Linked DNA regions of Homo sapiens: region 1 is linked to region 2. Evidence: fine-mapped expression QTL. Tissue or cell type: whole blood. Region 2 holds a variant in brackets; the other region holds the start of a gene. All regions are shown on one strand. Distances are from middle to middle.

Region 1 (8,177 bases), 27 kb after region 2:
GAAACCCTTCCACAAAGAACAGATCAAAGGAGTGAGCCCCTGAGGGCAGGGACCGTGGAATCCATCTTTGTACTCCTTGCTACAAATGTGATGCCAAGTAAAAGAACCCAATAAATGCTGTTGCTAATGGATTCACGCATGCATGCACACATGCATTCACTGTTGGACAAATATTTACAGATGTGCCACTGTTCTAGCCGCAGGTGATTTAGCAGTGAACACAACGAAGTCCCTATCCTTAAAGCAGCTTACATTCTAAGTGGGGACAGGCAGATGATAAACAAATAAAGACATATTGCATCAGGCAGCTATGAGCATCCTGAAGATAAATAAAGCCAGGTAGGGGAAAAGGGAGAACCCCAGGGAGGCGGGGAGAGGGGTGTGCTGGCTTAGTTGGCCATGGTCTTTCTGCAGGAAGTGAGGGGCTGAGCCATACACAGGCAGAGGGTATGGCACTGCAGACAGAGGGAGCGGTCAAGTGCACAGGCTTTGAGACAGGTGTGTGGGCAGCTTCAAAGGCCAGCAGGAACAGCAAAGTGGCTGGAACAGAGTAAACAAAGAGGAGAATATATCACATATGAGGTCAGTTCTTGCAGAGTTTTTTAGGCTGTTCTTAGGACTTCGGATTTTATGTCAGTGAGATAGGAAGCTGCTGGAGGGTTTTGAGTGAGGAGTGTCATAGTCTGGCTTATGTTCTAAAAGGCTCACGCTGCTTCTGTGTGTACACCTGGGGAACAGAAAGCAGGCGAGAAAGGGTGAAAACAAGAAAGATCCATTTTGAAGCTGCTGTAATTGTCCAAGTGAGAGAGGAAGATGGATTTTTTTAAAACTCTCCATTTTAGACTGAGAAATAAAAATTTTTTATCTGAGAATCCAAGCCCCCTTTAATTATCAAACCCAGAGAGGCACCGAAATGTGACAGCGTGTGACAGCGATCACGTCTCACTCCCCGCCTGAGCTAAATAATCACCTCTTGAAGCCACTTGCTATGTGGGCTCAAGACTAACTGATGCTAAGTAGCCATAAAATGACATATGCTTGACACCATCACTCGTACTCCATAGTTCAACAGTGTAGAGCAATCACTATCCAATGTTATCTCTGTAAACCAGGGAGGATTCCTGTCAAACAACTTTGTATCAGCCCACTTCCTTGTTCCTTTTGCCTTTGAAAACCTGCTTGTAACAAAGGCCAAACAGAGCACTCCCCAAGGCAACTTGGAAGTGTGTCCTGGGCAGCTGTCCTCCACCTTGGCTCAGATATTAGGTCGACAAGACCACGGCTGTCTTTCGGTGTGAGGCATATGGCTTCTTCTCACTCCCACTCTAACCTGGAGCTGCAATCCCTGCTGAAAGAATTGCCCTCTAAAGGCCTAAGGATCTCAGCAACAGGGAAGTGGGAGGAATCTTCATGCCAGAGATAAAGAGCTGGTCCATGGGCATGTGTGGGAAGCACTGGGGTAGGGCGAAGAAATCTATCTCCTGGGAGGTGTTATCACTACATAAATCCCAGATTTGATCAGGCAATGTAGCCATCTCACTATTTCAGGCTGCAGCTGCTAAGACAGGTGTGAAGTGGGCAGACAAACAGGAAGAAGGTCCCAGGTGGAGAACCTGCATTTGGCTTCTGTACCCCAATTCCAGTAATTAACAAAGCAAAAACCTGCCACACTGTGAATGATGGCCCTTCCCAACCAGAATCCTGTTTCTGACAAGTGGTGAAGACACTCTAAAATGCACCGAGTGTATGACAAGGACAATCTTCTGGATATTCCCATTTAAACAGGGATGGGCCGGATGCAGTAGCTCATGCCTGTAATCCCAACACTTTGGGAGGCTGAGGCAGGAGGACTGCTTGAGGCCAGGAGTTCAAGACCAGCCTGGGCAACATGGTGAGACCCCTTGTCTCTATAAAAAACACAAAAATTAGCCAGGTGTGGTGGCGCGCACCTGTGGTCCCAGCTACTCGGGAGGCTGAGGCAGGAGGATTGCTTGAACACAGGGGTAGAGGCTGCCATGTTCGTGCCACTGCACTCCAGCCTGGGTGACAGAGCATGACCCTGTCTCAAAAAACAATAAATAAAATAAAACAGGGATGAACTGGAGAAACTGTGAAGGTATAGGTGCTGTCTTGCTTAGGGGTGGGGATGATTTACGGAAGGCTAACACAAGGGCCTTGGTTAGTCTAAAGATAATCACGGCAACTAGGTGGTGGTACCAGGAACTAGTCCACCAAATCCCAACCTGCAGCCAAAAAGTCTCAACTCTCACCTATAAAGGGATCCTTCTAAATTCTCTAGATGTATGGAAATCTTTGACAGGTCTTCTGAAGCCTAGAGTCATCGTATAAACATAGATAAATAGTGTAGATATTGCATAGCTATAGATTGATATGTACATATACCATATACATTAGATATATGCTATATATTTACACTTCTTGGCCTTTCGGCTTTATTATCTATCTCCACAAAGTAGGACAAGACAAGCTTGTTTCCCATTTAAGTTTTTCTATCTGTACTGTTTTGCAAATCCACCAGAGAGTTGCAGGACACTCCTGCTACAGAAAGATTTCTGCCAGGCAGGCTCAGAGACCTGCTCTGTTACTGTTCTATTTAATAACACAAACACACAAATGGGGGCCTTTCTTCCCCATGACTTTCATGGCATGGCTGGGGGCAGAGCTGGGAGGTTTTCACGGCCCATATATCCTCAAACTGCTCCATTTCCCCCCGATCTCAGTTGCCACCCCACTAACTCCGGGGTGATCAGCTCCATACCACAATCATCTCCTGGTGATAGAGTTCCATGGATTTTAAAAGCTGTAAGAAAAACTGAGACAGATTCAGAAGAGATTCTAGTAACCCCAAACCAGCAATTACAAATATTTTTTAAGTATTTATATATACACATTTTTTTTTGAGACAGAGTCTCACTGTTGCCCAGGCTGGAGGGCAGTGGCACCATCTCGGCTCACTGCAACCTCCAACTCCCAGGTTCAAACCAATCTCCTGCCTCAGCCTCCGAGTAGCTGGGATTACAGGCACCTGCCACCACACTTGGCTGATTTTTGTAGTTTTAGTAGAGATGGGGTTTCACCATCTTGGCCAGGCTAGTTTTGAACTCCTGACCTCGTGATCCACCCACCTCAGCCTCCCATAGTGCTGGAATTACAGGCGTGAGCCACTGTGCCTGGCCTAATTTTTGTATTTTTAGTTAGAGACGGGGTTTCACTATGTTGGCCAGGCTGGTCTCGAACTTCTGACCTCAGGTGATCTGCCCGCCTTGGCCTCCCAAAGTGCTGGGATTAAAGGAGTGAGCCACCACACCCAGCCACAAGTTTTAGATACTTAAAATACTTTTAAGTATCTAAAATTAGCACCTCTCTTTAAACCTTTTACTCACCCTTTCCTGACCCTTTCCTTGTATCCCCCATTCCCTTTCGATTTCTTCACCATCCCTATTTGCCTCCTTTTCCTCACTATCTACCCACCAAGTCCTGCTCTGCTCCCATCCCACTTAAGATTTTCGTGTCTATTCTGTATCACCCTTAATGATCCACTGAGGCTGTGAGCTTCCTGTTTACCCACAAGCGTTCAGCGGATCCAGCCATCCTACCAAGGGTTAAAGATGCTGTAGTCCTACTGTGCTGCCTCCGACCCAGTTCCTTCCAAAACAAAGCAGGATGACAAGGTGACTCCACGAGAACTGCGTTTGACCTCTGTGTGGGTTTTCTGTTTCCAAGGCCACAGCAGGGTACTCTGAAAACTCTAAACCAGAAGGAAAGGAGACCTAGCCTTCAGAACTCTGTGTGTATGTGCTTACAGGCAAAAAAAAAAAAAAAAAAAAAAAAAGGAACCAATGAGGTTGTCAGAAGGGGATACTCTGCTGTAACTGGTGTTTACCACGACCCACCGGGTGCTGAGGAGGAAGTGGTTGCTATAACCCCAAGGGGGAAACGCTCGCTTGAAACAGGAAAATAGAACTCTTACAACTTTCCATTAGCAGCGTTCAAGAAGCCGGCCACACTGGGAAACACTTGCACAAGCACTCCCCAGAGTCCTGAGACGAGTGTCAAGACAGTCCAATCACGAAGCACAGATCAGGACACAGATACAGGTCCATGTTTTTTCCAGAACGTCTCAGCACTGGAAAAACTCTCATGATCACTTCCCTTACCTCCAGCAGGCTGAACTTGCAAGGAGCTGTGGGGAGGAGGAAGGAAGGGGAAAATGGCAGGATGACATATTGGAAAGAACGCTGGGCCCAGTGAGGGTCAGAAGACCTGGGCTTTAGTCCCAGTTCTGCGATTTACTAGTGGTGGAACTTTGGGCAAATTACCCAACCTTCCTGCTTCTCGATTTCTACTTCCTCTATAAAACAGGGATATTGTTTACTGCTCTGCTCACATCCTTGGGCTGCTGTGAGAATCCTATGGAATCCTTCATAGGATGAAACTCGTATGTGCTACGCAAATGCTTGTTATCAATGTAAGATTCGAGTCTGCATAAAGCCTTCTTGAGTCCCAGCCTCTTGCTCCTCAAACGCATCCTCTCGGCTACACTTCCACCTGTGCACTTCCTCAACCCACCTTACTTGTAATTCTGCCCACACTTCTGTAGAATTTCTGTAGAAGATCCCATAGTCTGGTCAGAGGAGTATAAGCAAGTCTAAATAACCAAAGTGGGGGGATCTCAACCAAATCATTTGACTCTGGGCTCTGTGCTCCCACATTCTCTCCTCTCCAGAGGTGAAGACTTCATCCTCAATGGCTAATTTGCCTGCTTGGAGGCTCAGATTGGCCCGTGTTCTGAGTCATATTTTCCATTTAGTAAAATGAACATCTGGCTGCTGTATGATGCCTTTTGTGTACCATCACCTAAGCCACAATTACCTGCAAGGTAATTCATACCACTACAGCACGGTGCAAAAACAGGGTTGGTTTGGGATGGTGAAAGTCAGCCATCTTAGTGTCAATCTTGCATGCAAATTCTAATGAAGAAAAGCCACTACCAGCAGGTCCACACACACTCACAAAGAACTCATAAATTATTTTAATCCAAGCGTTCAAAGGGATCCTGGGTCCCAGGAACCATCCTGCTGTTTCATCTCAGTGAGAGGCAAGATGGTTAAGGAAAAACAGCTCTAGTTTCCTCCATCCCCCCAATTCCCCTACCGGTGTGACCTTGACTAGGCCACCCAACCTTCTAAAAACCTTGGCTTCCTCATCTGCAAAATAGGGATAATAACAAGACATGCCCTTCCCGGCTCCCAGGGTTATTATGGCAACCAAGTGAGAAAACAGATGTGAAAGTGCTTTGCAAACCACAAAACACCGTCCAAGTGTGAGGTATTGTTATCTAGCAAAAGTGCCTTGAGAATAACACAGAAATCTGGAAGTATTTTAATTCGTTAATGGACTTATACCACACCTTGACTTAAAAAGGACGTAGGGTAACTGCCTGGAGGAATTCTGAAATAATTTCTAAATAAGTTTATCCAAGCAAGTTGCCAAAACAATCCACTGAATTGGGTAGTAGGCTTTTGGATAATAGGAAAACTGCAGATCGCTGTTCTTTATTCTTATTTCACCTTTTGAGCTCTAAAAAGAACTGGAAGGACCATATTGTGTTGTCTTTTACGCAAGAACTAAACAGTCTCTTTGTACCCTCCACACCCTCCCTATTCTCACTTCCATCCCCTGAGCACCTGGGAAGCAGCTCCTTCTCCAAACCTGCAAACCCTCCTCCCAGAGCCCAGGCTAGCTTGGAAGCCTGGAGCAATTTGAAACGCCGTCCTAAGATCTTGAGGCCAAAGGCATCCCCATCATCCTTCCAAGAGGGTGTTACCCCCAGGGACAGCAGGAGTTTCCAGAACACACAAAGACTTATTCTGCTCACAAGGATATTTACCGAATCAGCCCACAAGAATTTGCCAGGATCAGGGCAGAAGAACAGAGCTGGGACAGCCTTCTGATTCACTGCCTGGCAGATTCACCCTTCTCTATTATTAGCAACCCAGGCACGATGCCACCAGGGCTGGGGAGAGACCTTGGTGTCAGGGTAGAGAAGGCAGGAAGAGGTGTGTGTGCAGAGGGGGAAGTACACAGAGCTGCCTGAGGTTTCCTCCAGAGAGAGACAGCAGAGGGGTGGGTTAAAGCCTTCTCCCCTTCCTCCTTAGTTCTCTAACCTCCTGTGAATCTCAGACAAGCCCAGCCCCAGGATCAGAAGCCCTGGAACCCACATCCACCCTGAATATTGCTGGAGGTACTCCCTCTTCCCCTTAAGGGCCCAGCTCAGAGCTGCACAGCACTGCTTCTGCCGGATACCACTGGACTCTGGGCTGTGCCAGAGGCTGCAAGATGGAGAAGCAAAGAGAAACTGACGGGAAAGGTGGAGAATTTCTCTTCCCATGGCAAAAATGCAACTTACTGCAGCCCTAATGCACATGTGTTCCCTCCTCATAACAATGACTACCACTGAAAGAGCACCCATTACATACATCACAGGGCGTTCGCCTCCTGTTATAGGCAGGAAAACAACCATGTGGAGGCTCAGCAGGCTGCCCTGGAGAACGTGGCTAATGCTGATTGAGAGGGACAGGACTGAAGGAGGAGACGAGGAGCTTCACCTTCATGCATCTTGTATTATTTCACTTGTACAGGTATTTCGCGTGCATTATTTAACGTGCTATATCAAGCTTGTACAGGCATTACTTGAATACATTGAAAACCATGAAACGAAGGAATTAAAAAAAAGAAAGACATGTTGCCAGTCAATAGTAGAGTCTAGATTTGGATAGATTTGTCCAACTCCAGAATATACTCTCTGGCCACACCTCCACAATTTGTCCAAATACCAAACCAGGACATGGACGCTAACAAAGACTATTTTTCTAATGTTATTCATGTGAAGAATTTTACAAAATAACCAATAACCAAATAACATTTGGTTATTAAATATGATAAATGTGGCCTATGGAAAATAAAACGACACAAAATGAAAACTGGCTGCCATGCAAACTTAGGAGAGGGCAAAGGAGCCACAGTGACCCCAGACTTGCTTTCCCTAAAGGGGGAGGAAAATCAAATCCCCTGCAGATGGCTGCAGACCTCAAATAGAGTGCTGCCACTGAGGGCAGAGGCCGAGCCCCTGGAGCAGGCTGATTAGTCTAGTCTAGTGGTTAGGAACATGGTCTCTGGAGCCAGGCTGAGTGTGAATTCTGGCTCTGTTCTTCATAGCTGTGACTTCAGGCAAGCTTATCTGTGCCCCATTGGTTTCCTCACCTGTGAAATGAATTTGGGACACTGTGTAGATTAAAATGTAAAGTGTCTAGCACTAAACACTACCTAAGTGTTCATTATTATTATCATTATCAGTCCTGGCCAGAGAGAAAAAGGGAGAATTATCTATTCCAAAAGGAGCCAGGACTGGGATAAGGCTTTGGTGAGCTTTTTACGTGGTCTTGACAACGGTGTTCATGATAGGCTTATTCTAGGCCGCTCTCTGCTGTCAGGAAGGAGGTTTCCTGTGTGAAGAGAAGGCCTCCCAGGAAGTGACAATAGAGGTATCAATACTCCCAGCAAGAGAACCACAGGCCCAGAGTGGATGTCAGAAAGAGGGGCATCTCAGGGAGCACGCCTCTGCGGAGGGCTACTGATGAGGAAGAGACCACATGGTTGCCTAGAAGGCAGGCCTGCGGGGAAGCACTGACGCCAGCACTCAGGCTAGGGGAGTCCCTGGGGTCAACTTGTGCAGAGACTGGCGCTCATATCCCAAAGAACTGGGTGCCTCTCTAAGATAGAGCTCCCTGCCTCCCAGTATCTCTTCCTGCAGGTGTTTTGTTCCAATGGCTGACAGCGTCTATTCAGAATTCTTAAAAATGTCACTTTGTTTCCATCTGTAAAAAGGAATTAAAATGTACCAAAATTCCAAAGAAAATTGCCCCTTTTCAGATGTGGCTCCCTGTCTCCCCTCTTCCCTTTTCTGCTTTTGATCTTATTTAAAATCTCTGACCTAAAAGTGAACTCTGATATTCCATGCTCCTGGAGTTTTGGGAGGACCCTGACTTCAGAAGCAGAACTCTTTGAGTTCTTCTGGTTCCAGCTCTGCAGCTAATTTGGAAACCCCAAGAAAGTTGTGTCACTTCTGTCTCAGTCCAGAAAGTGGAAAGATTAAC
Region 2 (8,177 bases):
AGCCCAGGGAGCCAACAGGTGGCAGGCGAAAGCCACCCAGAGCTCCTAGGTGCTAGGGGCGGGCTCTCACCTGCACTCCCCAGGCCCCTGGTCCCAATGTCAGGAAGACAGTGTTGACTCTCCAGGACAAGTCACAAATCTCAGAGCATGCCCCAGAGCCACTGAGCACATGTCGGCGGGAGCCAGAGTCCCAAGAAGCCCCGACGTGCAGACGCCACCAGCAACTGCATCACATTCTCCTTAGTGCCACCCTTCTGCCCCCGCCATGCCCAGCATTGTTTGGTGACCGGCCCTTCCCTTTCTCTGTGACATGTCTCAAACTCTCTTGCCCTGGGACTCAGCATGTGAGGTAACCCTGGGCTCCAGCCTCCTCACCCTGTCATGGAAAGGCCACATTCTAGAGGTGACCATGAGCAGCCAGTCTTGGGAGAGGCCCTGCAGCCAAGGGTTCTGGATGAACGCATTTGGGGGAAGGCACAGTCCATGGCCCAAATGGAACTAGCCTGGCACCCCAGGGAAATGCCATGGAAGCTGGGTCCCACACAGCCCCCTTGGGAAGGGCTGGGCTGCAGCTGGGGGCCTGATTTGCAGTCAAGCAAGCCTGGTGCAGAACTGCACCAAGCTGCTGCCTGGCTGGGTGGCCCTGATGAGTCACTGAACCTCCTGGTGACAGAACCCTCCTGCTTACACTGGAACATGACCCATCTCCCAGAATGGCGGTGAGAACGCAATGGGATAAATAATGGAAGCATCTAGCATAGCCCTTGGAACAAGAAGGGTCCTTAGGATTTGTGTGCAGGAAAGATCGGGCTGGGTGCACCCTGCTTCTGGGGAGACCTTCCTCTTCCCCTCCACACATACTCCTCTCTCATCCTCTTCCCTCTGCCTGCCAAGATGGGTTACATGGGTACCAGCCACGGTCACTCTAGATCTCTCTTGAGAGCACTAGGGTGCAATCAGAGAGAAGCTGCGGAAGTCAAGCGGCTGGGTGGGGGCAGCCCTGGGGCAGGAAGCGGGGCTCCTGTCCCCAGCAGGAGCAGGCAGGTTCTGGGGCAGCCTGGCCCTGTGCTTGGCTGGCTGTGTCTTTGGGACAGCCGACTTCCAGAAATGCCCAGCCAGTGTTCTTCACACAGGCCGTACTTTTTTGGCCAGGTCTGAGTGGACACCACTTGGATTATTCTCCATGTGGTCACCTGCGAAGTCCTGCTGCTGTCTGGGTTGGAAGGAAGGGCTGGGCCTCCCCTGAGAGGACACATTCTGGTGCACCAGTGGATGCCATCCTGGGTCAGAAATCAGACTCGGGAAAAGCAAAGGCCTCGGGCTGGCTGGGGGCATGTTCTTTCTCCTCCCTGCCCTATCCCAGGTCCCTGTGGGCTAAAGATAGTAAGGAACTTGGATGGTGGGAGGGAGGTGGCCAGGGATGGCTCAAGAGCAAACAGTGGGGCCTGTGCTTCTCCATCCCCCATTCTTTCCCTGTGAGTGATGGCGAGAGAACACAACAGTCAGTGGCAGGGTGTGATTTTAGGACAGAACTCCCAGGAGGAGAGAGAAGAAAGGAAAGAAGGAAAGAAATGCTGGCTGGCTTAGCTCTCTTCTCTCCTGGCCTCTGTCTCTGTCTCTCTCTCTCTCACACACACACCCCTCTTTCTCAATCTGCTCTTATGAGAAATAATCCGGTTAAACCAGTCACAGTGGACACAGCCTTCTGCTCTGAGCTCTGAGTCTCCGTGCCTGGCCTCCCAGACAGCCCTGCAAGGAAGCATGGGGGGGCTTGGCATCTGGCCGTCCAGCCCGGGTGCTGCAGTGAGGGCCAGCCCCACAACATGAGCACCGCACGCTGGACACCATGGGGGCCGACAGCCTTAGGGAGGTTCACCAAGCCTGCACAGGGGAGAAGGAGCCGTGCTGTGGATGACTCAGGGTGGAAGGGCAGCAGTTTGAGAGGTAATGAGAAAACCCGGCTGCCTAAAACTGAGCCCCGAGATCACAGCAGCCGGCCTCAGGCATCCCTGTCTGCTCTCTGCCCTGCCTCCTCAAGCCCCCTCTTCCTCTCTCCTCTTCCCTGGAGTCCTCTCCAGGCTTATCCCCTGGGCAGGTGTCAGGGTGAGCCTGAGCCCCTGTCAGGAACCTGGGGGTGGGAGCCAGTCCTGCACACAGGCCCAGTGACTGCTCCGGGCTCACCTGGGGCCCTGCGGTGACCTGCCATGTGGGTTTCTTGAGTTCCGTCAGGGGCTTCCTCCTCCTTTTAGGCAGATACAGGTCTTTTTTGGGAAACCAGCATGTTCTACTAGCCACTCTCTCTTCCCACTCACCAGGGCTGGGGAAATGGAAAGACCTCGATTCCCATCTCCCCTGCAGCTCACACAGCAGGAAGTCACCATCCTGCGACCTCCCTACCTGGTGGCTCCCCGCACCCCCAGCGATCCCACCTGAACCAAGGGCAGCTCTCTCTTCCTTCTCTCTAGGGGGCCTCAGAACCCAGCCGGTGCCCTTTTTCTGGTTCCGCCAGCCCCTGGCTTCTGCTCACTGGAGAAGGAAAGGGGCCATCATGGGCAAAGCCCAGGTCCCGGAACCCTCTGCAAATAATGGGAGATGCCTGGGGATGGGGAGGCTCTAATTGGTCCAACAGCCTCCTCAGCCTGCCCTTGCACCTGTGAGGCCTCCGGGAAGCCCTGAGTGCCACGCTGTGCACCTGCCATGTGGCTTGCACTGAGGCAGGCATGTGGGCTGCGAGAAGCCTGGCTCACCTGATTCCCATCTTGCAGTCCATCACACAGGGCGAGTCGAAGTCGGCCAGCAGGTCGTCCATCTGGTTGTAGCGCTCCCCGTCCTTCACCACATCCCCATGGTAGGCAGGTACGAAGGGCCTCAGCACATCCACCATCAGCCGGTCCAGGCAGCGCTGCTCTGACTCACAGTGCTTCTTCAGGATCCTGCCATTGGCAGCTGCCTTGAAACTCCCTGGAGAGCAAGTGTAGAAGGTTCCTGGTCTCCGGCTGCAGGTAGCTGGCAGAGGCACCCTCCCCAGCACAGGGTCTGGGCCTCCCTGGGGATGGCTAAGCCTGGGGCTGAAGGTGTGTCTATGTCCCTGCTATGGACTGAGCACCTTAAGGGGAGTGGGTTCAAGACCTAGTCCCCACTCACTAACTGTAATTCTGAGCTGGTTCCCCAGCTTCCTTGACTCCAGACTCCTCCTCACCAGTGTTCCCTGCTGGAAGGGTACAGAGCTAGGTGAGAGACTGAGGTGCCACGACCCAGTCATTCCTTAGTGTTGCTATTTTCATCCTCACCTCCATCATCAGCCCTGCTTCTCGGCAACGAAGGTGTCTCCTGGCCTCAGTAGAGAAACCCTGATTGGACAGGATTCAGAGCCAAGGTGGGGAGATACAGCAGGCTGAGAAGCTGGGGGGCCTAAGGCTCAGCCCACCTGGGTGGCACTTCTTCTGAGCCAGACCAAGTAAGTATTCACACAGGCTGTCCATCCATGTGCCTTGAGTTGGGCCAGTGTGGCCAACGAGGTAAGCGAAATGCGGGACCTTGTGCTGGCCTGAGGAGGCTGGTGAAGTCACGAAGGCCAAGTCCACAGGCAGCCCCTGACATGTCTCCAGATGACAGTGCTTCCAGAGGGTCCTACATGTGGGCTAGATGGCTCTGGGGCCTCGGCTCCAGATGTCCCTTCTCCCCGGCACTGCCTGGACTCAGCTCCTAGCCACCTTCCTCCCAACACCGCACACCGCCCTGCAGTTATGGGGTGGCTTGGCCGCATCTTCCACCAGCTGCAGGCTCCCTCAGGGCAGAAACTACATCTCCATTAATGCCGCAACCCCCAGGACCATGGCAATTTAGGCACACAGTAGGTGCTCAATGAAGGGGTTAGCTTTGCCTCTTTGTCCAGGGTGACAAATGGCAGGTAAGCTATAAAGACTGATGGCTTCATCTGTCTTATTGAATACAACGGGAAGAGAGACAGAAAGAAAGAGACTGGAAGAGACAGAGATAAGAGCCAGAGACCGAGGGAGGGGAGGATGCATGTTTTGGAGGATGGGGTAACACAGACTCCAGAGAGGTCCGTTGTCTATGGCATTTACAAGGCATTGGTAAGGCCGCAGCCTGCAAGTGTGGCTGTGATTTCAGACTAGAAAGTCTTGGAGGGAACTTGCTCTGGAGCTTTGATCCCCAGAATGCAGCGTCCAGGGCACCTCCCCAGAGGGCTGAGCACCATGCTGGGAAAGTCTGGGAGAGCTGTGTCTACCTGCGTGTCCTGCCAGCTGGATCCAGGGGTACTTCTTCTTGAAGGACATGACGAAGGGAGACCAGTGCACCATGTTTTTTATCTTCCTCCATGATTTGCTCTAGAAACAAACAAACAAAAAGCTCTACATTAGAAAGACAACCACTAATTTCTGGTTAGGACAAATTCAAAGCAAAGGCCCTCATTGCCTGTGGCCACAAGATGGGAAGGGCCCTTGACGGGCTCTGAGGACCTTGCCACCACCATCACCTATGCGGCACATGGTGGGAGGTGGCTTTACCCCATTTAACAAACAGCCTGAGCAAAATGCTCAGGGGAACTCCCCTGTCCCAAGAGCAACGACCCCTCCAAGGAAGGCTGGAGAGGACACAACCACCCAGCCGCACCACATTAGTTCATATTCAATTCGTAGATGCGGAGGCACCAGAGGCACCTCTTGCCTGCGAGTGGTTTGAAGAGAGACTTTAAAGAAATTCCTCAGAACAGAACCTGCACCGATGGCTTCAGGTCACACAGGAGGGAGCAAGCCCACAGCTCTCTCCTCTGCACCGCGCTCCGCCCTCTCAGGATGTTTCTTCAGTGAAAACAGCCAGGACTGGGAGTGTGCATGTGTGTGTGCGTGTGTGTGCATGTGTGTGTGCATATGTGTGCATGAGTGTGTGCGTATGTGTGCATATGTGATATATGTGC[A/ATG]TGTGTGCATGTGATTGTGTGCATGTGTGCATGAGTGTGTGTGCATGTGTGATATGTGCATGAGTGTGTGCGTATGTGTGCGTGTGTGTGCATGTGTGATATGTGCATGTATGTGCATATGTGTGCATCAGTGTGTGCATGCGTGATATGTGCATGTGTGTGATGTGTGCATGTGTGTGCATGCGTGTGTGATATGCACATATGTGTGCATGAGTGTGTGCGTGTGCATGTGTGTGCGTGCATGTGTGTTTGGGGAGAGCAGGCCCTTTGGGCAGAAAGGAGAACTAAGGTATATTGAGCATCTTATTTTATTTTCTCAATGAGCATGCAAGTCAATTCTTTTCTATTTCCATCTGGTGGAGCCTGAGCCTCAGAGAGGTAAATGACGAAGCTGGGATTTAAACATTCATTTATACAACTACTTGAAAATAAATAAAATTAATAAAATTCTTTTCTTCCCCAGCAAAAACAAACAAAACAAAACAAAAAAACAAAAAAAAAACATATTTTTAGAAAAAATATCCTTAAGTGAACTTTAATAAGAACAGGCTGCAGAGATGAAGATCAAGTGTCCCCAAAATACACCCGTCCTCAGGGGGGCGATGAGAACCTGAATGAGAAGCATTGTGAGTTCCTGAGAAAGTGGATCCTGGACCAGCTAAACCACGGAGAGCAGAAGCCATGTGGCTTGCAGAGGAGATGAGGGTGGTACTGCCTGACAGGGGGACACACTGAAGATGTGGTTCCCACTCCTTGCCCCGAAGCGCCCAGCTGCAGCCCTCAGGGGTCAGCGGCGGCTGCTGGGTCCCCAAGGTGAAGTCAAGGTGAAATCGGCCTCCTTTGTTTTTTCTCTCTTTGCTGAGACTCAGCCGCTTCTGTCATCAGGTTTTCAAGTTAAAATCTATTTAAGGAGAGGAATTCTTCCTTACTAAACCTGGTAATTCTTATCCCCATCCCAGAAACTCTCACCCCACCGCCAAGACCAATTCTATTCTTAAGAGAGGGCAGCGCCCCATGAGGCCATGTGACAAAAGGGCCGAGGCTTTACTGACAAGGATGTTTTTCCTAGATCCTTCTGATGGAGATCGCCAAAGAAGGCTAGAGCCAGCGGAGGCATTTCTTATCTAAGCACCCAGAAGGCTGCATAAACAATCAGGGCACACAATGCATGAGGGCAACAATGGAAAAACCTCATTACACAAGATGAGCCCAGCAGTGGCTCGTGGGGACGCCCCTGCTCAGGGGGAAGCCATTACGGTGGGTCCAGGGGGAGAGTGCACAGCCGGTCACCACCCGTGGGTCACATCCCTGCAGCAGAGCTCAGAGAGGACAGGGGCTGACAGGCTTCAGGGGTGGTGTGGGAGGAGGGGAGCCCAGAGTGTCTCAATCCAGGGCTCGCCCTAACCCATGCCATGTCCCTATCAGGGGAGAACACACATTGCACTGTTTCACAGTCCCTCCTGGGGCCTCAGTTTCCTGTGTCCGGTGAGGGACAGACAGCTGGTATACCAGGCTCCTTGGATGGATGGACACTCTAGGGCCCTGGAAAGTGACCTTCCCTCATCCCAACAGCAATGGCCCCTCCGAGGAAGACTAGAGAGGGCTACTCTCCCAGCTGCAGCGTGCCAGTTTATATTTTATGTATACAGGAGGAGGCAAATGAGCATGCATGGAGGAAGGGTCCCAGGACCCTAGAAGGCAGCTCACTGTGGAGAAGGAGGGAGCTTACGGAGGCTGCACCCACCAGAGACAGCTGGGGGCCAGACTCAGTGGAGAGAAAGAGAAGACTACAGCTGGCAGCGGGAGTGTGGGGACAAAGGCCCGGGGACTGGAACTGGGAGTGGTTGGGAACCAGACCTGCTATGGGCATGGGGGCTGCAGACAGAGGGAGATAGGTGAGCAGGCGAGGCCTCGGGAGAGCGTGGGGCGTTGAGGCAGGCCAACCTGGGCCCGAGTCCCGGCTCCCCTTTTCCTCCTCAATGACTGACCTTGAACAAGTTCTTAGTCCTTGTTTGTAAAAAGAGCGACACATAGATTCCCATTCTCCCAGGAGATAAAGCTGTCAGGAGATGTGGGTACCAGGGTGTCTGTGGGAGGGTCTTTAGCCCTCTGTGTTCAAGGAGGGGACCCAGGTGTCTCTGAAGTTACTTCAAGAATGGTCAGTCCTGTGCTAGGTGGAGTTGCTGGCCTAGGTTCTGAACAATAAAGACCTCGGAGCCTGGGGCAGGGTCATGCCCATCCTGTTGGGGTGCAGCTCTCCAGAGACCCACAAGACACAGTGAGCAGGGAGCCTGTGACCCAGGAAGGTGAACAGATGCTGGGCGAGACAGTGTGGCTTAGCCTCTGCAAGGCCATTTGAAGCTAAGAAACTTCCAGTTCTTGGACCTCTCCCAGAGGCTAAAGACCAGGGGTCTAGAAAGGAGGGGGTGCTCCAGGGTGGGGGTCTTCTGACAGTTCAAAGGATCCACAAGCCTCTCACATCGCTGAGCTCTGACCAAACCAGGCACCTTTACCGCTTGGCTCCCCTCTGCCCACACCTCCTCCATTTCTTCACCATGAAAATAGGTCCCACGTGGCCAAGGCCCTGAGAGTCCCCCAGTCCCAAGGCTGCTCTGCCTGGATGAGGGCCGTGGAATATTCCACTTGTGAGAATGCCATGCACTTGCACTGGAGACCTCTTTTCTCTCTGCCAGCAGCAGCACACAGGGTTTCCCCATGGTTTTTAAATAGCAGCACCCAGGCAGTGCCTAATGTCACTGCCAAGCAGTAAACAGAAAAAGCCATTTCCAGGTCCAGGCTGGGGGAAGGAGGGAAGGAGGGCTGCAGGGTGACCCCAACCACTCCAGCCTAGCCCCTAGGAGCAGAGATGAACTAAAGGATGGGAGGAGATTCCAGAGAATCAATGTCCTTGTGATGGTCGGGGAGACCACAGCATCTGCCTCAGGAACCAAATCCACTCCAGGCACACGCCGCTTTCCAGGAGCGGACAGGCTAACAGCCCTCCCTCCAAGCACTGGCTGGAGGAAGCCCCAGTCCTCAGAAATGGACTCCAGGCCTCATCCCCCAGATAAGACAGGTAACAAGGCAAGAAAGGAGGACAACCCAGAAGAATCCCACCCAGAGGGGTTTATCCCGTGCCCCTCCAGCCCTCCCTTGTGGGAGATATTCAAGAGTGAGCTCTCCACAGCAGCCTCTGTCTCTTCTCTGTCTGAAATCAGACCCCGTCCCAGGTCTC

Evidence for each region. PIP is the estimated chance that this variant, and not a neighbour inherited with it, causes the effect.
Region 1: ITPKB-IT1 starts here. The variant in region 2 is fine-mapped to the expression of ITPKB-IT1 in whole blood (INTERVAL, PIP above 0.99).

The regions. Positions count from the first base shown.
Region 1 is chr1:226,671,300-226,679,476 of GRCh38, forward strand. ITPKB-IT1 (ITPKB intronic transcript 1) reads right to left here and starts at 3,769. Exons shown (of 2, transcript NR_103784.1): 1 at 3,618-3,769. All of the region lies in intron 2 of ITPKB (inositol-trisphosphate 3-kinase B), which reads right to left. RefSeq lists a silencer at 4,751-4,900.
Region 2 is chr1:226,644,420-226,652,596 of GRCh38, forward strand. It overlaps ITPKB (inositol-trisphosphate 3-kinase B), which reads right to left. Exons shown (of 8, transcript NM_002221.4): 3 at 4,253-4,352; 4 at 2,748-2,961. Among named protein-coding and RNA genes, the nearest start is that of ITPKB-IT1, 27 kb to the right of the region's middle. RefSeq lists enhancers at 29-694, 2,361-3,252, 5,519-5,608 and silencers at 47-269, 2,040-2,240, 5,429-5,723. The variant A/ATG (reference allele first, on the strand shown) is at 4,943.